Linked DNA regions of Homo sapiens: region 2 is linked to region 1. Evidence: fine-mapped expression QTL. A gene starts in region 1. The other region holds a variant in brackets. All regions are shown on one strand. Distances are from middle to middle.

What was found.
Region 2: its variant is fine-mapped to the expression of TPBG in monocytes (TOPMed, PIP above 0.99).

Annotation. Positions count from the first base shown.
Region 1 is chr6:82,356,753-82,372,245 of GRCh38, reverse strand. It overlaps TPBG (trophoblast glycoprotein), which reads right to left and starts at 8,429. Exons shown (of 2, transcript NM_001376922.1): 1 at 8,338-8,429; 2 at 4,826-7,623. The coding sequence starts at 7,284. The coding sequence ends at 6,022. It overlaps LOC105377875 (a long non-coding RNA gene), which reads left to right and starts at 8,589. Exons shown (of 3, transcript XR_942738.4): 1 at 8,589-8,634. RefSeq lists enhancers at 6,015-6,916, 6,917-7,819, 7,971-8,482, 8,483-8,996 and a silencer at 6,869-6,948.
Region 2 is chr6:82,390,816-82,406,308 of GRCh38, reverse strand. No RefSeq gene overlaps it. Among named protein-coding and RNA genes, the nearest start is that of TPBG, 35 kb to the right of the region's middle. The variant T/C (reference allele first, on the strand shown) is at 7,225.

The sequences.
Region 1 (15,493 bases):
TTTTCCCTTCCTGTACTTCAAAATATTCTACAAAACATGAGTTAATTTAAAAATGTTTTTTAAGTGTTTTATAGCCAGTGTTGAAATGGTCTATAAGAATCACCACAGAATGTGTACCATTGAAAATTAAAGTCCTCCTTGAATACAATGTAATACTGTATTGTAAAATTGAGAGAAACTGACATAGAGTCACTTGTATTTGTAAACTGACCCACCTAATGTTCCAGTCAGTCCAATTCCCCTGGGTAAGATCACCTTGAAATGTTGTGTGTCATGGCTCTCTTGGGAGGAAGAAAGTAAAAAGTAATAGAAACAGAACTGATGGCTGGGCACGGTGGCTCATACCTGTAATCCCAGCAGTTTGGGAGGCCAAGGTGGGCGAATCACTTGAGGTCAGGAGTTCAAGACCAGCCTGGCCAACATGGTGAAACCCCATCTCTACTAAAAATACAAAAATCAGCTGGGCATGGTGGTGCACGCCTGTAATCACAGGTACTCGGGAGGCTGAGGCAGGATAATTACTTGAACCCAGGAGGCAGAGGTTGCAGTGAGCTGAGATCATGCCACCACACTCCAGCCTGGGCAACAGAGCAAGACTGTGTCTTAAAAAAAAAAAAAAAAAAAAAAAGAACTGTAAGGGGAAGGGGAAAATAAATGTATAAACTTCCGTTTTTTTTTTTTTTAAGCCTATCTCGATAACATCCCCGGTTCTTTAAAACATATTTTTAATATTTACTTTTCACAAAAAGTATTATAGAGGGTCATTATCTTAAGCTTCTGCTTCCTTAGACCAAATGTTTCCTTACATTAACCAAGTTAAATTGTGAACCACAAGTAAGTCCTATCATAAAATGTCAGCTAAATATAAACTGTATTTGTTTTTATAAACATTTACGTGTAAGTGTATGATATAGTAATCATGTTGCTTAATCTTAACCCACACTTTTTTAAAATAATAAAGTAAACCTAATTAATTTCCCATGCAATACCCTGAAAGGTACTCATGCTAGCTTCCCAAAATTCACATAAATTATAAGCCTTTTGCAATCTGCAGCATAAATACTACATATGATGTGAGAAAATTGAGATGTAGTGTGTGTCCTGCATATGTAAAGACAGTAAACTGGCACTTCAGCAGCCAAGCTGGCAGTGTTCGGCTGGTCAGTCCCCTGGTTTTCCAGGGTGATAATGGATTTGCATTGATTTAACTAACTTCCCTGTTTGGTCCAGGCCCTTAGAGGATGGCAGCATGCACCTGGAGTGGGCGTGAGCTAGGAGAACACAGCAGAGAATGCAAAGCTGACTGTCTCACCTGGTGACTGATTGACTTAATGGTCACGAACTTGGTCTCATTTGTTTAGTTTTCTCACCAGCTGAGCTTAACTCACATTTAAGGTTGAATTATACAAACCAGCACTGCATTCCAGAGTTTTTATTTTTCTTTTCCAAAGAAATATCACCATTAAATTTCCAAAATACTTCCTATTATATAATAGACTCATAAGATTGTTATGAAAAAATCATTTCAAAAACATTAAATGTTTTCGGGGGTTAAAACATGGTAATTTTTAACAAAGTAAAATCTAGAGCAAACTGAAGCATTCACTCAAAGCAACAACAATAAAACAAACAAATTCACCAAAGCAATTGCATGTTTTTATCAGACATGGTGATTTCAAAGGCCTCAAGGTAGGCAATTAGTAATGCCATCATCTGGTAAAAAGAGCACCAGAAGGGGAATCTAGAACCCTAGGATTTTGTCCTGGTTGTCACTGTATAACTGACACTGTATAACATAATAACTGTCACTGTATAACATAATAAGTCACAGTTACCAGTTACTTCATTTGTGGAATGGAAAGCTGAGCTTGACACTTCTAAGAGCGCTTCCAATTTTGAACGACTAAGAATTTGTATTCTTGTCAAAATTATATAAATCATATATTAAACATTTTTTTAATTCTAGATTTTTTTAACCCATGACAAAGAGCTGCTAAAATGTTCTAAGATAAAACAAAATAAAATGAGCCTGCCTTTTTGAAACAAAAGTCTCTAAGAGTAACAATGGGAAAATAACTGTACAAAACATCCTCAAGATGTTTTTCGTCATCTAAAAGGTGACAGGATCACCTGGACAATGTTGAATGTATTTTCTTAAACTAATTATTTCTAGTGCAGCACTGCAGTATTGGTGAAAGATCTTAAAAATACAATATCAAGGTAATTTTCATATATTATCTAGAAATATAAATTCCTCCCTTTCCTCTCCTTTACTGTTAAAAATGCTTGCACAAGTGTAAAAGTGAAACCAGAATTTCATCTAATAAATGTCTGTCTTCACTTTACGGTGCTGCTCTGAAAGGTGGATGACCGGATTTGGGAGCAGGAGGAAGCACGTGCAGAATTGTTTTTAACCTTGCAAATCTCGTGATGTCTCCTTTAGTGTAGTCTTGGGAGAAAAACTAAAATGATATGAAAGAATCACAATCTAGAATTGCAAAGCCTCTAAGGTCCTCAACAAGGTAAGCCCTGTTTTAGAACATCAGGTAAAAGGAAAAGAGTAAAACAGAATTCCTAAGCAAACAATCTCAGTTCATCTGGACCTTCTTTTTTACAGCCACTTTAATTAAAAAGACAAAAGACAAAGGTAAGTTATTTCTAATTAAATACTGAGATGAGCATAATCCACACTTACTGCCAATCAAGGTATTTCTAAAGGATTTATTATTTGTGATTTGCTCATTTATTTCAACCAGCCTTCCCCCCCAAGCTCCTACTCTTTTTCCTTTAAAAAATCCTATTCATTTAAAAACTCCTATTCAATGTGCTTCAAAGTCTCCTTATTTTGTTAGAAAAATCTGTCAGCTCCTGTACAAATTTGCCTTGTAGGTTACCATTGAATCACACCCATAGCAGCCAAACTGCTATTACAAAAACGAATGCTGCAAACTGAATGGTTACAATCAAAGGGGGCAGTTATAATTCAGGGCCAAATAGCTGTATTATCCTAAAATTTTTGCTACTTTAAATAGAAATTTATGGGATAGTTGAATAGCTTTCTAAATTAAGGGATATATCAAGTCCTTGAATTTCTAAGTATTTTTTCTAACTTTCTTCAAATGAAACTTGTAAAGGATAAATGAAGGGTGTTTTATGTTGAAAATTTTACGTTCAGTAATAAAGAGTATTACCAACTAAAATAAAATTTTAAAAATGGATACTTGCAGGTTTCTAGAGTCAACAATGCATTAATAGTAAGAACAGTATTTAAAACAAACAGACTTGTCTTATTTTTAAATAAAGTGATACTTTTATTTTTCCCATATTCCCTTATACTTATTGAATTTATATAGCCTCTATCTTCCAAGGAACTTAGAATGTTTTATAAGCTTATAGACTTAAGAATATTAGGGCTGCAAAACATTAATTAGTTGTCAAATAATAACAATTTTTTATCTTAAGAATAAGGTGTTCTTTTAATTGACTTTTTTATTTCCATATTTTGGAGAACAGGAAGGAGTGATGTGATGGAAAACAAAGCAGTAGCAATTGGAAAGTCCAAACAAGAGAATAAGTAGGGGGATGAAAAAGAAGCAATAAATTATAACTTCAAAGAAGCCATCTACCTAACAGGGAAAACTTGGCTTCACTTTATCAGATTCATCATTGCTTCAAAGAGTTGATGAGAAAAGCTAGACTAATGAATCTACTGCTTCCCTGGTTCTTAGATAAAGCTCCACTTTAAACTGTTAGATTATCATGTGATGAAGAAACAATTCTTCTCAATAGAGGCTCTATCAATATTATAATTTGTTTCCTACAATATCAGAAGACTTACTAAGTCCATCAACAGTTTACTAAGATAGTGGTCACTATTTTTGACAGATTAGTATCTCATTGTTCTTACCAAATAATGGCAACCAGACAGTTTAGGAATTTCTGATGAACACTTAAACTGTTTGATGGAATTTTAAGTGCCAAATATTTAGCTTTTTCTGAGGTAATTATAGGATCTGAAATATAACCCTTAAATAATAAATACTATATTTCACAAAACAAGCCTGATGGAATTTAAGGAATTACAGCTTTGTATTCTGACTATATATTCTAACCTATAAAAAGGAAGATTTACTTATTTTTAGCCCTACTTTGAAAATTTCTGAATTTAATTCAAAGAAGGAATCAGCAAAGATTTCTAGAACCTAAAATACTATCTGATCCTATTTTATTTATAAAAATATGAAAATGTAGATTTTATTTCAAACATAAAGCACTGAAGGACATAACCAGTTCAAAGGAAAAGCAAGCCCTAAGACTTACTGATGCAAGTTTACCTAATACTTTCAGTTAAGCAATAATGGCTACATTTAAATCACTTGATAAAAGAGCCTGAAGACTGATTAATGGAATTTACTTTTCAGATTAAATGACAGATAATAAACTGAAAAAATAATAAAAGCCTTGTATATTATGGATGTATCAATTAATGATTGCCTGTATTTACACCTAAATGTGATTTATTCTTCACAAAGGTGTATATACTTACATTATGAACAGCTTAGCTAAAATCAAAATATCCTCAAATTCTTAAACACTGAACTGAAGATAAGAACCTATAAATACTTGAGACACGTGTTTACAGATGTAGACATTTATCTGTGGTTATTTCCTCAAGTTCATATTCAACCATGTCAAGTCAACTTTTTAAACATATTAGCTGGGTCTCTGATAAACTAAAGAACATTTATGTTCCACTTTAAATGTTTTTTTGAAAATATCCTCAAGAAAATCTAAGTTTCAATTTACATTAAGACATTGAGAAATATTTTTTAAATTATATTTTATATCTTTTATTTCAGAATATTGTCTTTAAGACACTTTATCTTTATATTTATTTGCATTACATTTGTTTCAAATTCTGCTCTAAAAATCCACAGAACAATTTCAAACAGAGTTTTATTAAGTAAATACTATTTTTCTAGACCAACAATAACTTCATTAGCCTTGAAAAAGCCCCAAACTGGGAACTGTTTATTGTGCAGAACGCTTAGCTTTTACCAACTTCATTATGTTCTTACAAAACTGTTTCATAAATAGCATTAACTTTGGGACCATACAGTCACATGAATACTCAAACTCTCCATTTAAATACTAAAAGGATCCACCATTTCAAAACGATCTCCCAAGTCTATTTATATTAGACATTGCTACAGTTTGATTCTCAGCTATGTTAAGTAATAATTATCATCGGAACCAAGACCATTGAATACTCCTGCCCTTCATCCTTTTTTCAAAGCAAACTTGCACACACTGTAATTCTTTTAAGAATCTTTATTTTTTTTTTTTTTAACAATTCAGTCGGTTGGATCTCGATGCAGTTTATTAAAAAAAAATCAGTACATTTTCATATAAACTGCAATCAAAAAAGTAATTTACTTTGTCAAAGAAGTTATGAAGTTGCAAGTTATTTTTTGTAATATGCAGAACAGTAAAATGTAAGCATGCTCTTGGATGCAGGTGCTCCTGTGCACCATGGAGTTATTTTGAAGAGCCTGCTAACGTCTGCAGGCAGTTTATAGGATGCAATTATTTTCTCCACAACTTAGGTACATGAGAATAAAACTGATATTTATGAATAAAGTATTTTTCTCGAAAAAGTTGAGGCAGCTTTTGTTGAATGCTATCTGTGTGGGTACACTTGCTACACCTTGAACTGTACTGAGAGAGAGACAGACAGCAAGAAGCCCATGTTCATGCTGAAACCTGAAAAATCCCTCCATACGTGTTGAGGAGTTCCAAGAAAAAGAAGAGGGTAAAACACTATACACAACTGTTCATCGTCTTACATTAACAGAACACACCGAGAAACTTTACATAACAAGGAAGCAAATCCCCTTCACTGCTTTTAGTCAAAGTCCGTTGTATCTATAGTGGAGGATGAAAGTGGAGCAAGCCTAGTAGGGATAAAGCTTAAGTCTACATCTCATGCAGAGTTGTCCTTGGTCTGTCCTCTAATATTTCTCAGACATCCGAGTTAGAACTGAGGTTCGTTAATCTGGGGTCCGCATTGATTTCATATCTGTAATGATACCCTTCCATGTGATCCCTGCAGGCATCTCTGATGTTATGCATCCACTTTTTTATCCCCTTGCGGTTCAAATACAAAACCAGGAGGAAAATAGCGCCTATCAGGGCTAAAACAATACCCAGGAAGACATAAGAGGTTTGCAGGGATGGGGGAAGAATCGGGTCACAGTCCAGGTCAGCACTGTTGAGTTCCAAGAGGACCCGATTCCTCATTTTTTCCGGATATGCACAGGTGAGCCGGTCTTTGCCCTGCACTACCTCTGTTTCCTTGAGCCAGGTCACCATGTCTGCCATGTGGCAGTCGCAGACCCAGGGATTGTTGTCCAGGAAAACCCTAATGTGGGGTAGACCTTGCAACTCAGCCAGGGTGCCATTGTGAAGGACCTTGAGGGCATTGTCCTCCAGGTGGAGGCTTTCTAGATGTGTCAGGTTGCGGAAGGACACGTAGGTCAGGCTCACCAGCGAATTATTACTTAAGTCCAGGTGCCTGAGGCTGGGCAGTTGGGCCAGCACATCCCGCGGCAGGTAAAGGAAGTGGTTGCTGGCCAGCTCCAAGCGGCGGAGCCCCTGCAGTGCACGGCCCGCCAGCAGGGCCGCCACCACCATGCCCTCGAAGCTCCGGTTCTGCCGCTCATCTTCAGGGGGCACGATGTGGTTCAGGATCAGTTCCACAAGGGGACTGGGGGCCGAGACGCTGGCATTGCTGCCCGAGAAAGCGAAGGGACTGAGGTCGGCCAGTGGGTTGTGGCTGAGGTCGAGCTGGCGCAGGCTGGGCAGATGCTCGAAGGCGCCCGCGCGCACCTCGTCCAGGCGGCTGCCGCTGAGGTTGAGCGCGGCCAGCTCCGCCAGCGGCGGCCGGCGGGCGAAGGCGCCGGCAGGGAGCACGGCCAGCTGGTTGCCGGTAAGGAAGAGGTTGCGCACGTAGGCGGGCAGGTCCGTGGGCACCTCGGTCAGATTGCGGTTAACGCACTTGACTGTGCGCGCTGCCTCGGAGCACTCGCACAGCGCGGGGCACTGGTCCGGCAGCGGGGGCTGGGCGGACACGGCGGAAGCCAGGAACGGCGCCGAGGAGGAGAAGGAGGATGCCGAGGAGGTGGGAGAAGACGAGGAGACCCAGCCCAGGAGTACCAGCGCTAGTCGCGCCAGCCGCAGACGCCCGTCCCCGGCGGCGGGGCCCCGGGAGCACCCCCCAGGCATCGCGGCTCGCGTTTCCCCGGAGCTGGGCTGGGACGGCGCCCGCTCCGAAGGCTCGGGAGGCTGGGCCCGGAGGGCGCGAGCCGGCGGAAGCGTCTGGAAAAAAAAAACTTTCCTCTCGTGGAACCGAGGGAGTGGCGCCGCAGCCGGAACTTGGCTAACCCCCTCGCCACCGGGCGCTTCCCTCAGGGGCCGATTCCCCCGCCCCTTCCCTCCAGAAAGTACGCACGGCGGGTCGGGACGCTCCGCTCCGCGCTCCTGCTCCCGCTCCTCTTCCTGCCGCCGCCCTGGTGCCACCTCTTCGCCTCTTGTTGGCGCCCCTCGCTGGATCCTCTGAGGGACCTGGGACAAGCAGGAGAGAGGCGTGAACAGCGGTGGCTGCCGCGGCTTCCGGAGTGCAAAAACCGGCCTTTTCGAGTCTAGTCGTCTCCAGTCTGTCCCAGAGACCTCCTTCCAAAAGCCCGCCCCGGCCTCGCCTCCCCAACCCCTCCGGTCACTTTTACTCCGGAGGGGGACGCGCATCCGACACCCAGACCGCAAAGTCTTCCTTCTTCCCTGGCCCACACTAAATAAACCCGACCGGCCTCCCGCCCTCCGCCTTTCCCGAGGAGACTCGTCTCCCGCGTCTAACTTACCGCTTAATCCCCAATTCCTTCCCTACCAAACTTCTCCCTCTCCCGTTCCTTCCTGCACCGCCTCGGCGGAAGGTCGGCCTCCGGGTGTCTCCGCCCCCGCCCAGACCTCTCCACCAGGTCCCGGTTAGGATGCGAGGGAAGTTTCAGGTTACAGGACTTTTTGATCTCTTTTTGTACCTTCTCGCATTAGCAGGAAGTGGAGCTACAACTGTCGCCCCCCAGCCCGCGCCCCGCCAGCCCCTCGGATCTCAAAGGGGTTCAAGTCATCTCCAAAGAGGAGGGGAGAGTCTGGGAACAAAGCAGCAGTGGGACTCGGGGTACAGTGGCAACCCGAACCAACCCTACTCTCCACCCGAGGATGGGGAGGGGCCCCAACGACGCCTCCCGGGTCTCTCCCAGGCCGCGGGCTCCCACTGCTCACCTCCGCGTCCGCCGCCTCCAGAACCAACTCTGAGTTCCACCAGAGTAGCGACGACTTCCCGGCTCCGCGTTGCGGGCGCCGACTCTCTTCGCACCCCAGCCCCTGGCCCAACCTCCCAACCTCCGCAGCTGGGAAAAACCAACCCGGGGGGCGGGGGAGGGCCAGGACTGTCGGGGAGATTCCCGACGCGCGGCCAACCTCGGCAGCCGTAGGTAGGGGGATTTAAGAAGAGAGACTAGGGGAGCTGGGCTGCGCGCCTCCTCCTGGTGGAAATTAACGAGGAATGTGCCGGAAAAGGTGAGGGAATCCCTTTCTCTCCCCCCTCCCCGACATCCTTGGGTGGTTCCTCATTTTGCATACTGTATTTACCTTGGACTGGAGCAAAACCGCTGGTGAATCTCGTGGAATTCACCCTGATTCAGGCACCTTTGGCAGTGACGAGATAGATTTAGGCATGACAGAGCAGCGCGAAGCAGCAGCAGAAAGAAATGAGCTGAAAATCTACTGCGGCAGCAGCAAAGGCACGGCAGGTTGTATGGAAGCTTCAGAAGCTCTCCCCATCAAAGTGGTACTTGAGGCCGCAAACTTCAGATTTAGGTGTAATTAATGCCTTCCCGCCTGTCCCCCCCGCCCCCTCACTTCTTGGGTAGTGATGGAACTTGTGAAGAGAGCGCGCCAACTTTAAGAGAGAGAGAGAGAGAAAGAAAAAAAAAAGATTAGTGGAGAGGAGATTCATTCCTGATTCATTAGCTTTTCTCTTACCAAAATTAAAAGCAGATGGAAGAGAAAGGCAGCCAAAGGCATCCCAGAAACAAAAGGCAAATAGCAAAGACTTGAGTCTCCCGGAAAGCGGACCCGCCCCCCTCCCCAGATGTAGCGCGGTGTGTCAAGTCACTTCTGTGGAGAAAGCTCCAAGGATGAGGAGTGGGGATTGCAGGAGCTGACCTGGGAGAGAAGTTTGGTTTCAAAGTCGATTGTCCCAGGGGGCATCTGGCAGATGGTGATGGAGAGGATGGGGTTGGGGAGAGGGACAAATTGAATGGTTGGTTACCGGAAGGATCTGTTATTATACCAGACAGGTTTTGGGTTCTGAAAGCCCTATCGTTGCTCTCTGTAACTCCACATCCCCTTTGTCCCAATTAAATAATTTCCCCGAAGGGATAAGAAGGTTCTTCCAGGCTTCTTCATTTTAGAGAGAAAATGGCAATTAGGGAAAACATGGTTCGGAAATTTAAGACCTGGTCGTATTAAAAAAGATCAAATAAGGATCCTGAGGCTTGTGCCTGGGACATGTGCCTTTAGTGTGAAGAAAGACCCCAACTCTCCAACGGACGCCTGATTACTTTTATAGAAAGAGATAGTCTGCAAAGCCGACAGCAAAAATGGCTCAGACAAAAGCTGAAAACACTGGAAACTGCAGAGATTTGTGCACAAAAGCTGGTTTCATTAATTTGCATCTTCAGCACGTTTATCTACATCTCTTTTCTTATTTTTAAAAGTGTTTTGCAACATGAATGTAAAACACTTTGAAAAAGAATCTCTAAAGCTGTAGTCATGTTCTGTATCCGGATTGTGGTGGTGGTTACATAAACCTATACAACGTGTTATAACTCATAGAACTTTGTAAACCAAAAGAGTCAATTTTACTGTATGATAAGTTTAAAAATAAAATTAATTACTCATTGGAAAAAACCTGTAATAATGCTCTGGCATGGTATTAACTCTGGTCCTGATCTGAAGACCAACTGCTTTGTTAGGAGAGTGAGATACACTTTAGAATTTAGAAACATAATATATATACTCATCTGATTTTCAAGACAACTCAGAGGCAAGATAAATATTGTTAGTATTATTGCTTGTTGCTATTATTGTTGTTGTTCTGTTGTACAAATGAAAAAACTGGGGCTTTAAGTTAGCTTGACTGAGTGTCTTCCACTTGCCAAGCACTGTGCTGATCACAGATATTATCTCATTGACTCTTCACTTCGGTACTCAAGTTAGGTCCTCTCACTCCAGTTTTACAGACAAGAAAATTGACGCAAAAATAAATTACATAACTTGTTCAAATGAGTGATGGAGGTGGGAACCAGGCCCAGATTTGCCTGCCTCCCATATAGTACATCCCACATTCTGCCTCTAGGCAAGATTAAGGAGTTTGTGCAAAGTTCTACTCTGTTCCACTTAGGCAGAACGTAAACCTCACCTCTTGTTCCCTTTTTACTTCTTCTGCCTCCACCTTCCTGCAGCTGGCAATTGCTTATGGCTGCTGAATAGGGACCCAGAAATTTAGGGTCATTTCTAGCTCTGACACTTGCCTGCTGTGTGTCTTCTATAATAGGACCACTAATGAAATTTGAAGATATTTCCATGAAAATTGAGATAAATATGTCACATACTTAGCAAAATCATCTGTTTTGATAGTTCTCTCCTAAATTACCCCCCTCATGTTATTTATTGTAATCCACTATATCTCTGTAACTATGTTAGTAATAGGAATACAAGGATAAATAATTTAAAGTCTCTTTAAGGTAGAGTTGCCAGATTTAACAAATCTGGCAAAACAATGAATACCTTTTAATGAACAAAACAATGAATACCTTTTAAGTGTGTCCCATGCAATATTTGGGAAATGCACCCAAAATTTTGTTGCTTATAGTTGAAATTCAACTTTAATTGAGTATCCTGTATTTGATCTGGCAATACAGCAGTTGATAATCTGGTAAACGAAAGACATAGACACGGAAGCAAAAGCTCTCAATGCAGAATTGAGTACGGTTTGGTGTGTGTATCTTTCCAGTCAATGCCCTCTCTCTTTATAAATATTTCAATTGTTTCTGCTATTTTTTATGTGAATGGGATCATAGTATATGAATTATTCGCATTTTTTCTTTTTTAAAAACAACCATCTATTTTTCTGTGTGCATACATATAGGTATGCTTCTCCTTTTTTAAAGACTGAAATATTTCAAACTGTAGATTGTTGTACCACAATTTATTTAACAGCCTTATTGAAAGACATTTAGATCAGTAAATACTTTTTAAAGAAGTTTCCTCCAAGTGAGAAAAGCTTACTAGGATCAGTTCTATTTTGATTGTCTTAAGCATTTAATTATCCCAAATTATCATACTTACTTTACTCCTGACAGCTTGAAAATTTTTTGTGCATGATGCTATTTACATACTCTAAGGCAGGGCAGAGGATTGCAGAGCACATTTTTCCCAATTTATTCTTCTATTCCAAAGTGAAATAAAGGAAGGATCTGAATGTCCCGACAGATAAGAACCAATTTAGTGTATTTCAAGAGGTCACTTTGTAGCCTGCAGGAAACGTTTCTACACTATCATTTATTTACAAGATTGTTTCTACAGGGACCATTTTTCTTCTAATGACCCAAAGGAAAGTCAGTAGTAAATTATTGAAATATTGCTTCTAAATCCTGATTAGGCAAGGAATAAATAGGTATAAAAAGAATGATGAGTGGTTATGACCACCCTTATGGTAACTAGCAGAGAGAAGCCGCGTGGTCCAGCATGGACAAACACCAAGATTATTTAAGACTAGTTCATTTTGATCTCTGTCTCAAATTAGCAAAGGAATTGAATACACGTGAAAACTGTCAGATCTGAAAAGTAACTAAAACAAAGTCAAGTGTTGGTGAACAACAAGCACATATGTCAAAAAACCATGAACCAACACTTAAAACTAAAACCATCAACTTGAGGGTCAATTTGACAAAAAAAAAAAAAAAAAACCCACCAGAAATTGTACATGTATATGTGTATATTCATGAAGAAATAATTTTTTAAAATTGTCAGTGATTAAAAAGAAAACTTCAAGTCACTTTAAGTACTTGAAGTGTGTAAACTTCTGAGATGTGTAAACTAAAGTAAAATGTAAATTAAGGAATGGGTCAAAAGGAATGTATTTGTCTCATCAGTCAGTACAATAAGTGCTGCGGCTAGTAAAAGAAAAATATAGCCCTCTATATCTGTGGGTTCTATATCCCTGGATTCAACCAAACCACAGATAGAAAATAATCAAAAGAAAATAAATGGGTGGTTACATCTGAACCAAACATGTACAGACTTTTTAAAAAATTATCATTATTTCCTAAGCAATACAGCAGGGCGCGGTGGCTCATGCCTGTAATCCCAGCACTGTGGGAGGCCGAGGTGGGCAAATCACTTGAGATCAGGAGTTTGAGACCAGCCTAGCCAACATGGTGAAACCCTGTCTCTACTAAAAATACAAAAGTTAGCCAAGTGTGGTGGTGCACACCTGTAATCCCAGCTACTGGGGAGGCTGAGGCAAGAGAATCACTTGAACCTGGGAGGCAGAGATTGCAGTGAGCTGAGATCATGCCACTACACTCCAGACTGGATGACAGAGCAAGACTCCACCTCAAAAACAAAACAAACCTTTTGGTGAATTAACACTCCTTTCTGAGGGGCAGGGTTGATGGTCCAGAATGTGGTGGTCCAGCCTTCCTCCACCATTAATAATGGTTATTAAGAGTTTCTATTTGTATAGTGCTTTAACCATTTACATATTTTCATATGCATGATTTCATTTTCCTTCTCAACTCTCCATTACCTCTATTTTACACATAATAACACTGAGACTTAGAGAACCACTTGGTCCAGATTACCTAGTAAGTGGCCAGCCTGTGGTTTAAACTCTGTTCTCCTACTTTATTTCCAATATGGCAGGCTATCCCTGGACCCATTCACTATTTCAGATTCAGTAGTTGTTTCTTTGGAAGACACTGAGGTTTTCAGGGCAGAATAAACATATGTCAGAATTCCACTGAACTTTCACTTGAGAAATTAAGGAGAAAAACCTCTTCCCCTAATGAAATAAAGTTATCTAATGATATGTAATTTCTCTTACAGCCAAAACCAATGTTATTGCAGTTCAAACAAGCCCTTATATAAAAATGAGATAAATAAACATAAAATGTTAATAAAAAAAACCACAAAAAAATACAGCATAAAAACTATTTACATAACATTTACATTGTATTAGGTATTATGAGCAACCTAGAGATGAATTAAAGTATATAGGAGGATGTCCATAGGTTATATGCAAATACTATGCCATTTAACTTAAGGAACTTGAGCATCCCTGGATTTTGGTATCCGCAAGGATCCTGGAAGCAACTCCCTGAGGATAACAAGGGATGATTGTATATAGTAATATCCAAACTCTCCAAATAGTCACCATTACAGCAGGATCACTCAACATTAATTCAATAAATGCTTTTTTAAGACCCCGCTATATACTGTCCACCTATTTGATGCACTTGAAATACAAGGGTAGATAGGATAAAAATCCCTGCCCTCAGATAACTCACAGTCTAATGGGAAAGCAAATAGTTACAAAACATACGGTAAGTGCAAACATGGGATGGAGTGGGGAGACTGTCAGAAGGTTTTACTAGGGTGGAAATGCCTGAGTTGCATTTTGAAGCACAATCGGCCTGTATACTCAGCTTCTGCCCCGTGTATTCAATCAGCTGGGGATTGAAAATATACAGAAAAAAGAAACAGGAAAAAATAATGCTACAACAGTAAAAAATAATACAAATGAAAAATACAGTAAAACAACTATTTGCATAGCATTTACATTATATTGGGTATGATAATCTAGAGATGATTTAAAGTCTGTGGGAGGATGCATGTAGGTTATAAAAAAATACTATGTCATTTTATATCAGAAACTTTAGCATCTGTGGGGTTTGGTATCCACAGGGCTCTTGAAACCAATCCCCATGCATACTGAAGGAAGACTATGTTAGTAAGAACTTGACAGACAAAAGATCGGCAAGTTGGTGAAAAACCTGAGAATTTATTCAGTTCTAGAGACTACACAAAGCAGAGCACAGCACACATTGATACATTGGAGGGAGTGGTACAAGGTGAGATTTGAAATTTAGTGGGATCAGATTACTGACCTCCAGTCTAAAAGGTTTGTATTATTCCAGCCTGGCATGGTGGCTCACACCTGTAATCCCAGTACTTTGGAAGGCCGAGGTAGGTGGATCAGCTGAGGTCAGGAGTTCGAGACCAGCGTGGCCAACATGGTGAAACCCCATCTCTACTAAAAATACAAAAATTAGCCAGGCCTGGTGGCAGGCATCTGTAATCCCAGCTACTTGGGAGGCTGAGGCAGGAGAATCACTTGAACCCAGAAGGTGGAGGTTGCAGTGAGCTGAGATCATGCCATTGCACTCCAGCCTTGGCAACAGGAGTGAAACTCCATCTCAAAAAAATAAATAAATAAAAATAAAAGGTTTGTATTATCCTGAGTGATGGGGGGCCAATGGAAGTTTTCAGCAGAGGGATGACATGATCACAAGTGCATTTTAGAAAGATCACATTTGCTATCTGTTTAAAAGGTAAATTATAGACAAAGAAGACAAAACAGAGAGAAAAGTTGGGTGGTTCAAGTGAGGGATGACAAAGAGCCAAACTAAAGTAGAAGGAAAAGATTGGCAAGGCAACAATAGATTATATAGACCACTGGTTATTATATAGACCATAAGATTACATGGAACAGTGGTTCCCAACAGAGTGGCACTGCACCCAGTGCCACTAAAATATTTTTTGAAAAGAAAATATTGGCTTTTAGAAAGTTTGAAAACAACCTATAAAAATTTTTAAGATAATCTACAAATCTTGGTGATTTATTCACTTTGAAGGTAACAATACATACATTTATAATTCTAAATATAAGATTACAGATAACTTCTATATTTTAAATAATGACCAAGAGAAATTTTAATTTATCCCCAGTGTGACTAGATAAAAACCTGAAGTTCTCAGCCTAGAAACAACTTCATTTTACATTTAAGCTCCAAATACTTATAGTATGGTTTTATTATACGTTGAATTTTCCAGGAACAGTTAACACTGTAAGGAAACAATATATATTGTTTTGTTTGGAACTTTACCAAAATTTTATCTCTGATAACCATGCCACTCATTCTACTCAGATCATCAATATAGTATCAGTTTGCATTTGTAGTTGTTACATTTGCAGTGATTCTTATTTCAAAATGTCTAATATTTTTAAAAATTATTTCAACATTCATTTGAATATTGGTCTAACTTCTCTTAAATCCTAGCTTGTTTATAAGTAGGCAGAAGAATATCA
Region 2 (15,493 bases), 34 kb before region 1:
GAGCTAACTGTTAAATTTTAGGAACTTGGCAAGCCTTTTTCAAAAAAATTAAATTATATAAACCTACAATTAAGTAAATTATATTAAAAACAACGGCTACAAATATTCAAAATTCATTACTTCCTAATTATTTTACTACATATTTCTATTATTTAGGCTGTCAAGTTTATTTACATGTATCTGTGTGGTAGAAATACTACAAAAACAATGGCACATTCCGTGAAGTAACGTTGGAAGCTTGAAATGGTGGGAATATTTACACCACAAAGACTGTCAAAAGTTTTAAATCAGGGCTTTTTCCCCTAGAGAACCAGTTACTAAACATTTATGTGAGTGTTCCATATACCTAACTGATTTTGAAATGGAAAAGCACTCCATACATATAATTTTAGAAGTTCTTTCCAAGTTTAAAATTCGAATGTTCCTATAATCATGTTGAAATACTGTGCAATAAGAGAAATGGATGCTATTAGTGATCATGGAAACAACAGTAGTTAATAGCATGCTAACTGTAGCTTGGGACAGGTGGTCCTGAAGACTGGGTATAAAAAGTGATTGGCCCCTTGGATTTAAATAAATATTTAAAATGTGACCATAAGCATTTGGCAGCCATGTATTTCAAGAAGTAAGCCCTGCACATGGCCCTAAATATCATTTAGTCTCTCATTCTAATTATAATCTGTAATTCACTAGCTCTACTTTTAGAGCAGACATGACAATACTTGCATGTCTATTCTTTATGGTGTCATAATGTGCATTTATAAGGTGCCTTATTGATAAATAATTGTATCTGAGCACCCACAGCCTTAAAACCTAATTCCATAAGACATAAATTCTCAAATGAAGTAAAAGGTTTTTACCCTAAAAATATTTTTTAATTATTTAAGACCATGTTACCCACAAAGAATGGGTTGTTTACTCCAAAGTTCCAAGGGAAAAAAGAACTAAATATGGACTATAAAATACATGCTAGTGATGGAGTGTCATTATTTGCAGTATTCTTTCTTATTAGTGCTAAGAAAGCTCTTAAATCTCATAAACCTCTACTTTGAAGTAGCTGTTTACAACTAAGCCCTTTTTCATCTTGAAGTTAACATAAGGTTGAATCTGCTAAAAAACAAGTAATCTCAGGATGCCAACTTTAAAATAATAAAAAATCATAAATTGTAATGTTTAGAGGAAGTACTATAAGTCATTTCAAAAATAGAATCTGGAAAATATAAAGAATAAAAAGCAGGTTAACATTTGATTAATATTTCTAGCAATGATTTTATCTCATACTAAAATTTTTACTTATGCAAGAGAATAGTCTCTATTACAAATTACTTTATTATGAGGAAATCTATTCTAACTTGATTATATGATTTCAGAGGATATGAGAAAATAATATTTTATTGATAAATTGTACTCCTAAATTTTATATTTTGCTTTTAAATTATTAAACTATTTTTCGATCCACATTTTTTCGTGTATTAGTGCACAGTGTCCTTTTTAACATTATAATTATGAGACTGGGTATGGTCTCTATTGCTTACTGATCATGAATAAATTAATATAATTCTTCTGATTACTTTCTTGCACTCACAAAAATAAGGAATAACAAAACCCAAGAAGCAGTTCTAGAAAGGTTTTCATCAAGCAAAAGTTGATTTCCAAGGATGTTCCTATTTAAGATGATATTATACTTCTTTTCATATGAGAAAGTATGGTATGGTAAACTTATACAGAGGTTCCAAATGCCATCAAGAGAACAGTCCTTCTCGAGACTATTAACTTTTCACTAAAACACAGAACATGGAAACAAATGAACATTCACATCACTTAACACTGAGATCAGACTATGGAAATAATCTATTCAAATTGCAAGGAATCATGAGCTGGATTGAGGAAAATTTAAGTAAGCCTCAACTCACATGAAATGAAGAACATTTAGAAAATAATACAAGATTTTAAAAACCCCCTCAACTGCACCCCATTTGTCACTAGCCACAAAGAATGAGAAAAACCAGTCAGTTCTTCATGTTTCCTCCACCCCAGCCTTCACACACACACATCCTGTATCCCAATAAAGATAGGAGACAACGGACAGAACCCCCACCACTTGTCCTTGGGAGGAGAGATAATTCTATAGTACCTACATTCCTCCAGAGGTCCCCAGTGGAATTAAGTCCCAGTTGTCCATAGTTGGCAATGAGCTCAATCTACTTTGACTTTGTTTTTCTTTCTCTGTCTCACACTCTCTCACTCCAGTTTCTGGGGCTCATGCTGTAAATTAACTACCTGCCTCTAAGTCCTTATTGCAGGCTCTGAATTCAGGGAAACCCAAACTAAGACAAAGTCTCTATTACCTCCTTCTTTGGCTTCTTCATCCTTGTACTCACCCTTTGAAATTTAGCTCAGTGTCACCCCCTTGGAACAGCTTTACCTGACTGCCCTGACTCAGATACCTCTTTCATTAAAATATTATAATCATTGATTAACTAGAGTCTCCCTCACCATTAGATTGTAGTCTCCTGAGTATCAGGACATATTGGTATTGCATTTTTACACCAGTGCCTGGTACACTGTAGGCTCCAATAAATATGTGTCAAATAGGTAGCTGAATAAATGAAAAAAAAAAAGAATAAAAGGAGAGGAAAGGAAGAAAAACAAAGACAGCCTTCTGTTGCTAACATAAAATAAATTAGGAATTTGTGCTTGATCATCCCAAATGTAGCTCCCCTTAACCAAACTATATTTCCTATTTTCAGCTTACATACTCATCCCATAAAAATAACCCTGGAAAGAGCTTTCATATCTTAATTCCCAAATGAAATCTAAAGGACTTGCTAAGATGAAGGTATGTGAGATCATTTCAGCAGCAGGAGGAAAATAAAACTCTTTTTAGCTAAATCCAACACAAAATCATTCAGAAATCCCCTTGATCAATAATTTCAGGAGCAAAAAAAGAAGTCACAAGCTTACACTTGAAAAATTATTCATACCTACTACAGTAATGGTAGCAAACTCTGAAACAGTGGGACAAACCCTAGGCCAAATGCTAAATAAATCCTGTGCTGTGCCAGGTAGGAGATGCTCAGAGAGATCTGGGCCCTGCAGCCTGTCCCACAGAGCTGAAGGGGAAAGAGCTCACTAATGGGACACAGAGCTGCCATAACTCGTATTGGTGGAGTGGTGGGACTAACGGAAATCGCTAGTTAAATGACACTTTCAAAAACCCTTTCAAGGGAAAAAACTTCATCCTTTTCTTTCTGGGAACAGAGGATAAGGAGTAAATCCAGCCCTGCCTGGAATAATCAGGTGAGCTAACTGAGGTATACAGGAATGACAGCTGGACTTTCTGTCTCGCTAATGTGCAAACTCTTAAATCAGGAAAAAAGAAGGCACATGGTACAAATATAACCTTTCTAAGTCAGTATTTTATAAACTGCAAATTGTGACCCACTAATGGGAAATAAAATCAATTTATGAAACTTGACCATTAGTTTTAAAAAGTACAATGGAATGGAATAGAGTTGGAAAATATCAGAATGTTCACATTTTTGTGGGCACATGTATATGAATGGTGGGTCACAATATAAAATGTTTTCTTAACTCTAGGTTGTGGTTAAAAGTGTTTGAAAGTCCCTGCTCTTGGCTGGTGCTTCTCTTAAATGTGGTCCAGGGTTCCCCATATCAAAATGATAGTTCAGATAAAAATGTAGCTTCTTGGCTGGGTATGGTGGCTCACACCTGTAATCCCAGCACTTTGGGAGGCCGAGGGCACCTCAGGAGTCAGTTGTTGGCCAGCCTGGCCAACATGGTGAAACCCCATCTCTGCTAAAAATACAAAAAAATTAGCCTGGTGTGGTGGTGCACACCTGTAATCCCAGCTACCTGGGAGGCTGAGGCAGGAGAATTGCTTGAACCCAGGAGATGGAGGTTGCAATGAGCCGAGATCACGCCACTGCACTCCAGCCTGGGCCACAGAGTGAGATTCCGACTCAAAAAATAAAAATAAAAATAAAATAAAAAATAAAAATGTGGCTTTGTGGCACCACCCCTAGAGATTCTGATTGAATAGGTCGGGGGGCGGGGCTCAGGAATATGCATTTCAGAACTGCAGATGATCCTGCTGCAAACTAAATTTGAGACACAGATGATAGCACCTCCAGGGTTGCAATGAATAAATGTAAAGATTTATTTGTCATTTCACTTTCTGGCATGCAGAAGGATTCTCCATGATTAGCATTTCAGGGAAGATCTTAGTTCTGGATAAAAAGTAGTGTAGCATAGTAGTTAAGAGGGTTTCTGTGAAGTGAGATAGATCCAAGTTGGAATCTCAGTTTGCCATTTATTAGATGTGACATCTCAGGAAATCTCAATTACTTTGTATAAGCGGAATCGGTAACTGTAGCTACCACATAGAATTAAAAGAATTACATGAGATAAAGCAGCTGGTGCATAGTAAGGCAGGAAATATTAGCTATTATTATATTTAAGAATCCACAACATTTTGAGAAAAACGCTATTCAACTTAATTTGACAGACATTAATTGAGTGTGCAAAGAACTATGTTACGTGCTTATGTAAATGCAAAGATAAAAAACAGCCCCTCATTTCACGGAATTTACAATGCTATAGTCATTTTTTTTTTTTTTTTTTTTTTTTTTTTTTTTTTTTTTTTGGAGACGGAGTCTATCTCTGTCACCCAGGCTGGAGTGCAGTAGTGCAATCTCAGCTCACTGCAACCTCCACCTCCCAGGTTCAAGCAATCCTCCTGCCTCAGCCTCCTGGGTAGCTGGGATTACAGGCACACACCCAGCTAATTTTTGTATTTTTAGTAGATATGGGGTTTCACCATGTTGTTCAAGCTGGTCTCAAACTCCTGACCTTGTGATCTGCCTGCCTCGTCCTCCCAAAGTGCTGGGATTACAGGAGTGAGCCAATGCGCCTGGCTGGTGATAGCTTTTAATAGCAGAAAATCTTACAGATTACTCAATCTAGCTCTCATTTAACAGAAGAGGAAACTAACACTTGAGAGTCTAACTAAGCAAGTTGCCCAGAGTCGTACAGATAGTTAAGTGGAGGAGTCAGACATAGAACCTGGGAACCCGAACCCAGGCCACCTGGGATCCTTCCACCAGAGCGGATCTCAGTTCCTGGATAAGAGAAAGCCCAATCTTGACAGTGGTGTGCTGGTAAATATTAACAACCAGCTCTGTGTTGGGAATATGTGTGTATGTGTGTGTATATATATTATATATAGAATATACGATATTATATATGTTACATATGTATGTAAGTTTATTCTAAACTTTACTAATATAAAGGACATATAGCACACAGTTTACTAATGATAATAAAATATACAATATACTTTATTATAAATTCCAACTGATTCTCACAGAATGCTTTAGTTGATTTTTGCTCAATTCCTATATCCATAGCCAACCTATGATTGCAATTAACTATAATTTGACAAACAGAGTTGTATCTCAATCCACTAACTCTTTTTTAAAAATTGTGGTAAAATAGGCATAACAGGCTGGGTGCGGTGGCTCATGCCTGTAATCCCAACATTTTGGGAGGCTGACATGGGTGGATCACGAGGTCAGGAGTTCAAGACCAGCCTGGCCAACATGGTGAAACCCCCATCTCTACTAAAAATACAAAAATTAGCTGGGCGCAGTGGCAGGCACCTGTAATCCCAGTTGCTCAGAAGGCTGAGGCAGGAGAATCGTTTGAACCCAGGCGGCAGAGGTTGCAGTGAGCCGAGATCACACCACTGCACTCCAGCCTGGGTGACAGAGTGACACTCTTGACTCAAAAAAAAAAAAAAAAGGCATAATATAAAATCTGCCATCTTAACAACTCTTAAATGTATAGTTCAGTAGTAGTATTAAGTGTATTCACACTGCTGTGCACCCAATCTCTAGAATTTTTCATCTTACAAAACTAAACTCTATACCCATTAAATGACAATTTACTCTCTTCTCCCCTCAGCCCCTGGCAATCATCACTTTACTTTCTGTTTCTATGAATCTGACTACTCTAGATACTTCATATAAGTGAAAAAGAGTATTTGTCTTTTTGCGACATTTTTAGCATAATGTCCTCAAGATCATCCAGGTTGTAGCACATCACAAGACTTCCTTCCTTTTTAAGGCTGGATAATATTCCATGGTATATACATATACCGCATTTGTTTATCCATTCATCTGTCAAAAGATACTTGGTTTGCTTCTACCTCTTGGCTATCATGAATAATGCTGGTATGAACATGGGTACACAAATATCTCTCCAAGACTCTGTTTTCAATTCTTTGGATATATACCCAAAAGAGGGATTGCTGGATCATACAGTAGTTGTATTTTTAATTTTCTGAGGAATCACCATACTGTTTCCATAGTAGCTACACCATTTCCCATTCCCACCAGCAGGGCACAAGGGTTCCAACTTTTCCATGTCCTCACATCCTTGGCAACACCTATTTTCTGCCTGTTTTTTTTTTTTGTTTTTTTTTTTTTTGAGATAGGGTCTCACTCTGTCACCCAGGCTGGAGTGCAGTGGCACAGTCATGGCTCACTGCAGCCTCCACCTCCTGGAATCAAGCAATCCTCCTCTCTCACCCCCCAACTTCCCCCCTCCCACGAATAGCTGGGACTACAGGCACGCACCACCAGGCCTGGCTAATTTTTTTATTTTTGTCATTAAGTCTGACATGTGATCTACTATTAAGCTATCTTCCACCATCATACAGATTATATTCATTAAATTAAAACCTTTTTTTGGTTCAGCACACTTAAGTTCAAACATAATAGTCAATACTGTGATTACTGAATCAGATAACAGTTTTCCAATATTGAAAAAAGTATTTCCTCAGTTTTGTGTGCTAATCACAATGTAATAGCTACTAAAAAAACATGCTTTTAAGTTTAATTTGCATTTTTAACATTTACTCATCACTTTTTAAAGTCTAGATGAAGGGTATAGAAACATTTTCTATAATGGGCCAAACAGTGAATATTTTAGGCTTTGTGGGTCTAACATCTCTGTTAAAACTACTCTGCCATGGTAGCATAAAACTAGTCACAAACAGTACATAAGTAAATGGACATGGCTGTGTTCCAGGGAAACTTTATTTATAACAACACATAGCAAGCATGCCCTCTTTTACTGAATCCTGATTTAGATAATCAACAAAACAATAAATCAAGCTGTGCTGCTTGCCAATTTCCCTCA[T/C]GTAAATACTCCCACCATTATCAAATTTAAGTTTCAACACGAAGTTACCGAAAGTAGAGTTAGAAAGAAATGCATAGTTGCATGCCATTTTTAGCATTCCTACCATTAATACAAATAGACATAAATAACCTCAATGGCACAGATAATAGTAAAAATGTAGTTAAATAATTAGGGAGTGATAAATTTTGAGTATTTATTACTTTGTAAAAAACAAAATTTTAGGTCAGGCAGTCTAGCTCACACCTGTAATCCCAGTATAATAATTGGCTCTCCCAAGCCCATGTGGGTGAGTTCCAGCACCCCAGTGGTTCCATACTTTAGTCTCCTGCCAATCCCCTCAGTGGTCTGAGAACCAATCCAACCCTTGCCCCTTGCACCCTTTCACAAACTTTAAGAAAATATTCTCCTCTGAAAGGCAGAAACCTGCTTTCTGGATATGTATCTTACTCTCCCATAACTTAATTTCTATAAAAACATCTTCTCTTCCAGTTTTTATTTAACTGTTATTCTAGTCTGGCCCTAAGGTAATTACATTTCTGACCAAACCTGCACCATCTTAGAATTTACAGAAGTAAACAATTGTTCCTGTGTTTGTATTGTGAGTCACATTTGGCCAAAAAGAATTTGCATTCCTTTAGAAGCTTCTAAAATTACAGCACTTCCTAGTTCAGGAACCAGTAACTTTGGGGTAGAAAGTAAAATGGGTATAAGATCACATAACTGAGCAGAATCAGGGGATATATATTTTAAGTTAGCCCTAATATACACAGTTATTCTTGGACAACTGATTTCCCTTATTTATATAAATCTCCATTTTTCTCTCCTCTACAAACTAAGGAGGGTAATAATACTTGGTATTCTTAAAGTTTGTGAGGGCTAATATTGCTCAAGTGATTTAAGAACATTGGCTAATGGGGTGTTGGAAATGTAGGTCATCATTTATCATCTAGACATGAATGTGAGTCATTAAAGATTGCAATTCCATGAACCTGACAAAATCACTTTAAGCTTTGAAAAATGTACTTAGATGGTTAAGGCAAATTGAAACTACCAGGTGAAATTAGCGTTTCAATTTTTATCTGCATTTTCTTTAACCATATTCTCCCTTTCTCCCTATGCCATAAGTAACTGAGAGGTGATAGCTTATTCAGGCATGTTTTCTTTTTTTTGTTTCCTTTGACTCTGGAATAGATACTCTATGGTACCAATGCCACCATTTCCAGGTCTTTCCTTTCTGTGCTCTTCCTTTCTAACTCAATCAATGAATCCATATTTATCAGGACATTGTATTAGATCATCCTTTTTCTGTTTCCAGATTATTTCCAGGTTCTGGCTCTTACCTTGTTATGAGTGCATACAAGCAACACACAGCCTTCTAACATTGATATGTCTCTTTAATCATAAAACATGGGACAGGACACAGAATATGGGCACAGGAGTTCACTCTGGCAAAGCATAGCTCTTGCATGATAAATCTCATTCTATGTATTCTGCAAAGTCCAGTTTGGTTTATGCTTTAGTCTCATGAGAATCCCAGCCTACCCATGAATCCTTCCGGAGATGACCTATCTCTCTGTTATGAAGACACAAAGTGAAATCTGTTTAATGCATGAAATGTAATTATTCTTTACTCTCACTGAATGTTAATGTATATTTACAAAGCTGCACCAAGTTGGGAAATATATTTTGCATTTTTAGTAGAATACCATATTTATACTGCAAAGTTTTTGTTTTATGAATATTTTATTGAAGAATAGCTGGGAATGGGTTATCCAATTCAAGGTTTTATTTGCCTTTTGTATATTTATGTGGGTTTGAAAGAGGAAACACTTGCTTTTATATCTGCTAAGATTAGTCACAGGTAATTGTGGTTAGGTTTGCTGAAATTCCTCATCCTAATGATGCAAACAAAAATCACAAAGCACAGAGCTTTTGGTTTCAGAGGTGACTCACAAAGTCTAGCAATCCATCTTGGAAGTCTTAGCAGGCCTATTTTTGGGCTGTTCTCCACACATGGCAAGGCTGAAGAATCCCAGGTGTTCTTGCTGAGAGCACAGTGAGAGCATGAGGATTGCCCTGAGAAGCAAGAAAATGCTCATTAAAGCAGGTTTCTGGTGGGAGATGACTCTGACTGGCAGGCCTGCATTCCTCCCTGTGGTGACCCCTTTCCTTGTTAGAGAGGGGGTCTGATGTCCAAATGTATCTGGGTTTAATGAGTAGCTGTTCACTGGGGACCCAGAGATGGCAAAGTGCTTGCTTGGTGAACCAAGAACAGCATATCGTTTATTTTGTGGATACGACACTGTTTAAATAATGTAAAAGTTTTTCTTTTGTGAGACGCTTTCCATGCCTTAGTAATTCTGAATGGCATATGTGGATATAGGAAACCTGAGGCTATGGTATAAATGGACTAACCAGGTTGGCTGAATTAATGATTCTGACAAAATCCCTAAATTCTTAAAAATAATTTGATAAGATCAACAGACATTTATGTCCCTACTGTAAATGAAGATGGAATAAAATTAGGAATTCTTCCCATAGGTCTGCAGATGTAGAATGGTTAATCAGGTGAAAAGATATTTAAATAACAGACCAGGGAATTAGGCCACCATATTGATTTTTTTAAATTGTTTTAATCTGTCAGATACTTACTAACTGCAAGCATATTTTGTCTTGCAGGGCATATTTCAACAAAATGGCAAATAATATGTATTTTGGTGAAACCAAAATTGAGTAATTGTATATAACAAAATTGTGAATAGCAAAGTAGCAATTTATATATGGCTAAGAATAGAATTTTATACAAAATATAGAGTGCAATGTCTGTGTGAGAAAATGCATGACAACAACGACAGTGTTAAAGTCCTCGAGAAACACCACATGTGTATCATAAGCTAAGCTAAGCATTTACTTGGAATTAAGTGCCAAGAAAAAATATTATTTCCCTGTGGCATGATATTTTGAAAGACCTCTCCATCACTTAAAAGTAAGGTGTTTTTTTTTTTCTGTCAGTATTCTAGAAATAAATTTGAAAGCACTTAAGGTATATGGAAAATTTTCTACTATTATTAGTATAAAAAACAACTGCGAAGGAAAACTCAGTGCTTTCCAAATCAACGTGTTTAATGCCCTGTTTATAGAATCAACTGTATCAACCACTTCATGATATAATTTTTCTCCCATTCAAATGAAGTTCTAGATCTGTGGAATCTTAACTTAAATACTTAACTCCTATTAGGCTATGTCTTGTGCAACTCTGGCCAATTTCATTAATTTTTCATTGCTTTGGTTTCCCAACTGAAAAATAAGGATCATAATGTAGTTCCACCTCTTCATCACATTCTATAGGGTTGGGCTAAACTGAGCACAAATAAAATATTTTTATGTAATAAAGGTATTACATAAAAATATTAATACTCTTGTAAATTTTTAATTATTACAATTTTAAAAACAACATAATTTTCCAAATAGATGAGGTGTAAGTATATAATTTAAGTCATCATTGAGCTTATCAGGTGGGCAGGGGACGAAACTGATACACAGATATTTACTGACCACATTCTAATGCCAAGCACTTTATATGCACTATTTCACTCAACTGTCATTACAGTCTGAGGTAAATACTACTATAAGATCTACTTTATAAATGGGAAAATTGCGGGGGAGGAGCCAAGATGGCCGAATAGGAACAGCTCCGGTCTACAGCTCCCAGCGTGAGCGACGCAGAAGATGGGTGATTTCTGCATTTCCATCTGAGGTACCAGGTTCATCTCACTAGGGAGTGCCAGACAGTGGGCGCAGGTCAGTGGGTGCGCGCACCGTGCGCGAGCCGAAGCAGGGTGAGGCATTGCCTCACTTGGGAAGTGCAAGGCATCAGGGAGTTCCCTTTCCGAGTCAAAGAAAGGGGTGACGGACGCACCTGGAAAATCGGGTCACTCCCACCCGAATATTGCGCTTTTCCGACCGGCTTAAAAAACGGCGCACCACGAGATTATATCCCACACCTGGCTCGGAGTCTCGCTGATTGCTAGCACAGCAGTCTGAGATCAAACTGCAAGGTGGCAGCAAGGCTGGGGGAGGGGCGCCCGCCATTGCCCAGGCTTGCTTAGGTAAACATAGCAGCCGGGAAGCTCGAACTGGGTGGAGCCCACCACAGCTCAAGGAGGCCTGCCTGCCTCTGTAGGCTCCACCTCTGGGGGCAGGGCACAGACAACAAAAAGACAGCAGTAACCTCTGCAGACTTAAATGTCCCTGTCTGACAGCTTTGAAGAGAGCAGTGGTTCTCCCAGCATGCAGCTCGAGATCTGAGAATGGGCAGACTGCCTCCTCAAGTGGGTCCCTGACCCCTGATCCCCGAGCAGCCTAACTGGGAGGCACCCCCCAGCAGGGGCACAATGACACCTCACACGGCAGGGTATTCCAACAGACCTGCAGCTGAGGGTCCTGTCTGTTAGAAGGAAAACTAACAAACAGAAAGGACATCCACACCAAAAACCCATCTGTACATCACCATCATCAAAGACCAAAAGTAGATAAAACCACAAAGATGGGGAAAAAACAGAACAGAAAAACTGGAAACTCTAAAACGCAGAGCGCCTCTCCTCCTCCAAAGGAACGCAGTTCCTCACCAGCAACGGAAAAAAGCTGGATGGAGAATGACTTTGACGAGCTGAGAGAAGAAGGCTTCAGACGATCAAATTACTCTGAGCTACGGGAGGACATTCAAACCAAAGGCAAAGAAGTTGAAAACTTTGAAAAAAATTTAGAAGAATGTATAACTAGAATAACCAATACAGAGAAGTGCTTAAAGGAGCTGATGGAGCTGAAAACCAAGGCTCGAGAACTACGTGAAGAATGCAGAAGCCTCAGGAGCCGATGCGATCAACTGGAAGAAAGGATATCAGCGATGGAAGATGAAATGAATGAAATGAAGCGAGAAGGGAAGTTTAGAGAAAAAAGAATAAAAAGAAATGAGCAAAGCCTCCAAGAAATATGGGACTATGTGAAAAGACCAAATCTACGTCTGATTGGTGTACCTGAAAGTGATGGGGAGAATGGAACCAAGTTGGAAAACACTCTGCAGGATATTATCCAGGAGAACTTCCCCAATCTAGCAAGGCAGGCCAACATTCAGATTCAGGAAATACAGAGAACGCCACAAAGATACTCCTTGAGAAGAGCAACTCCAAGACACATAATTGTCATATTCACCAAAGTTGAAATGAAGGAAAAAATGTTAAGGGCAGCCAGAGAGAAAGGTTGGGTTACCCTCAAAGGGAAGCCCATCAGACTAACAGCGGATCTCTCGGCAGAAACCCTACAAGCCAAAAGAGAGTGGGGGCCAATATTCAACATTCTTAAAGAAAAGAATTTTCAACCCACAATTTCATATCCAGCCAAACTAAGCTTCATAAGCGAAGGAGAAATAAAATACTTTACAGACAAGCAAATGCTGAGAGATTTTGTCACCAGCAAGCCTGCCCTAAAAGAGCTCCTGAAGGAAGCGCTAAACATGGAAAGGAACAACCGGTACCAGCTGCTGCAAAATCATGCCAAAATGTAAAGACCATCAAGACTAGGAAGAAACTGCATCAACTAATGAGCAAAATAACCAGCTAACATCATAATGACAGGAGCAAATTCAGACATAACAGTATTAACTTTAAATGTAAATGGACTAAATGCTCCAATTAAAAGACACAGACTGGCAAACTGGATAAAGAGTCAAGACCCATCAGTGTGCTGTATTCAGGAAAACCATCTCACGTGCAGAGACACACATAGGGTCAAAATAAAAGGATGGAGGAAGATCTACCAAGCAAATGGAAAACAAAAAAAGGCAGGGGTTGCAATCCTAGTCTCTGATAAAACAGACTTTAAACCAACAAAGATCAAAAGAGACAAAGAAGGCTATTACATAATGGTAAAGGGATCAATTCAACAAGAAGAGCTAACTATCCTAAATATATATGCACCCAATACAGGAGCACCCAGATTCATAAAGCAAGTCCTGAGTGACCTACAAAGAGACTTAGACTCCCACACATAAATAATGGGAGACTTTAACACCCCACTGTCAACATTAGACAGATCAACGAGACAGAAAGTTAACAAGGATACCCAGGAATTGAACTCAGCTCTGCACCAAGCGGACCTAATAGACATCTACAGAATTCTCCACCCCAAATCAACAGAATATACATTTTTTTCAGCACCACACCACACCTATTCCAAAATTGACCACATACTGGGAAGTAAAGCTCTCCTCAGCAAATGTAAAAGAACAGAAATTATAACAAACTATCTCTCAGACCACAGTGCAATCAAACTAGAACTCAGGATTAAGAATCTCACTCAAAACCACTCAACTACATGGAAACTGAACAACCTGCTCCTGAATGACTACTGGATACATAACGAAATGAAGGCAGAAATAAAGATGTTCTTTGAAACCAACGAGAACAAAGACACAACATACCAGAATCTCTGGGATGCATTCAAAGCAGTGTGTAGAGGGAAATTTATAGCACTAAATGCCCACAAGAGAAAGCAGGAAAGATCCAAAATTGACACCCTAACATCACAATTAAAAGAACTAGAAAAGCAAGAGCAAACACATTCAAAAGCTAGCAGAAGGCAAGAAATAACTAAAATCAGAGCAGAACTGAAGGAATTAGAGACACAAAAAACCCTTCAAAAAATTAATGAATCCAGGAGCTGGTTTTTTGAAAGGATCAACAAAATTGATAGACCACTAGCAAGACTAATAAAGAAAAAAAGAGAGAAGAATCAAATAGACACAATAAAAAATGATAAAGGGGATATCACCACCGATCCCACAGAAATACAAACTACCATCAGAGAATACTACAAACACCTCTATGCAAATAAACTAGAAAATCTAGAAGAAATGGATAAATTTCTCGACACATACACTCTCCCAAGACTAAACCGGGAAGAAGTTGAATCTCTGAATAGACCAATAACAGGATCTGAAATTGTGGCAATAATCAATAGCTTACCAACCAAAAAGAGTCCAGGACCAGATGGATTCACAGCCGAATTCTATCAGAGGTATGAGGAGGAACTGGTACCATTCCTTCTGAAACTATTCCAATCAATAGAAAAAGAGGGAATCCTCCCTAACTCATTTTATGAGGCCAGCATCATTCTGATACCAAAGCCGGGCAGAGACACAACCAAAAAAGAGAATTTTAGACCAATATCCTTGATGAACATTGATGCAAAAATCCTCAATAAAATACTGGCAAACTGAATCCAGCAGCACATCAAAAAGCTTATCCACCATGATCAAGTGGGCTTCATCCCTGGGATGCAAGGCTGGTTCAATATACACAAATCAACAAATGTAATCCAGCATATAAACAGAGCCAAGGACAAAAACCACATGATTATCTCAATAGATGCAGAAAAAGCCTTTGACAAAATTCAACAACGCTTCATGCTAAAAACTCTCAATAAATTAGGTATTGATGGGACGTATTTCAAAATAATAAGGGCTATCTATGACAAACCCACAGCCAATATCATACTGAATGGGCAAAAACTGGAAGCATTCCCTTTGAAAACTGGCACAAGACAGGGATGCCCTCTCTCACCACTCCTATTCAACATAGTGTTGGAAGTTCTGGCCAGGGCAATTAGGCAGGACAAGGAAATAAAGGGTATTCAATTAGGAAAAGAGGAAGTCAAATTGTCCCTGTTTGCAGACAACATGATTGTATATCTAGAAAACCCCATTGTCTCAGCCCAAAACCTCCTTAAGCTGATAAGCAACTTCAGCAAAGTCTCAGGATACAAAATCAACGTACAAAAATCACAAGCATTCTTATACACCAATAACAAACAGAGAGCCAAATCATGAGTGAACTCCCATTCATAATTGCTTCAAAGAGAAGAAAATACCTAGGAATCCAACTTACAAGGGATGTGAAGGACCTCTTCAAGGAGAACTACAAACCACTGCTCAAGGAAATAAAAGAGGATACAAACAAATGGAAGAACATTCCATGCTCATGGGTAGGAAGAATCAATATCGTGAAAATGGCCATACTGCCCAAAGTAATTTATAGATTCAATGCCATCCCCATCAAGCTACCAATGACTTTCTTCACAGAATTGGAAAAAACTACTTTAAAGTTCATATGGAACCAAAAAAGAGCCCCCATTGCCAAGTCAATCCTAAGCCAAAAGAACAAAGCTGGAGGCATCACAGTACCTGACTGCAAACTATACTACAAGGCTACAG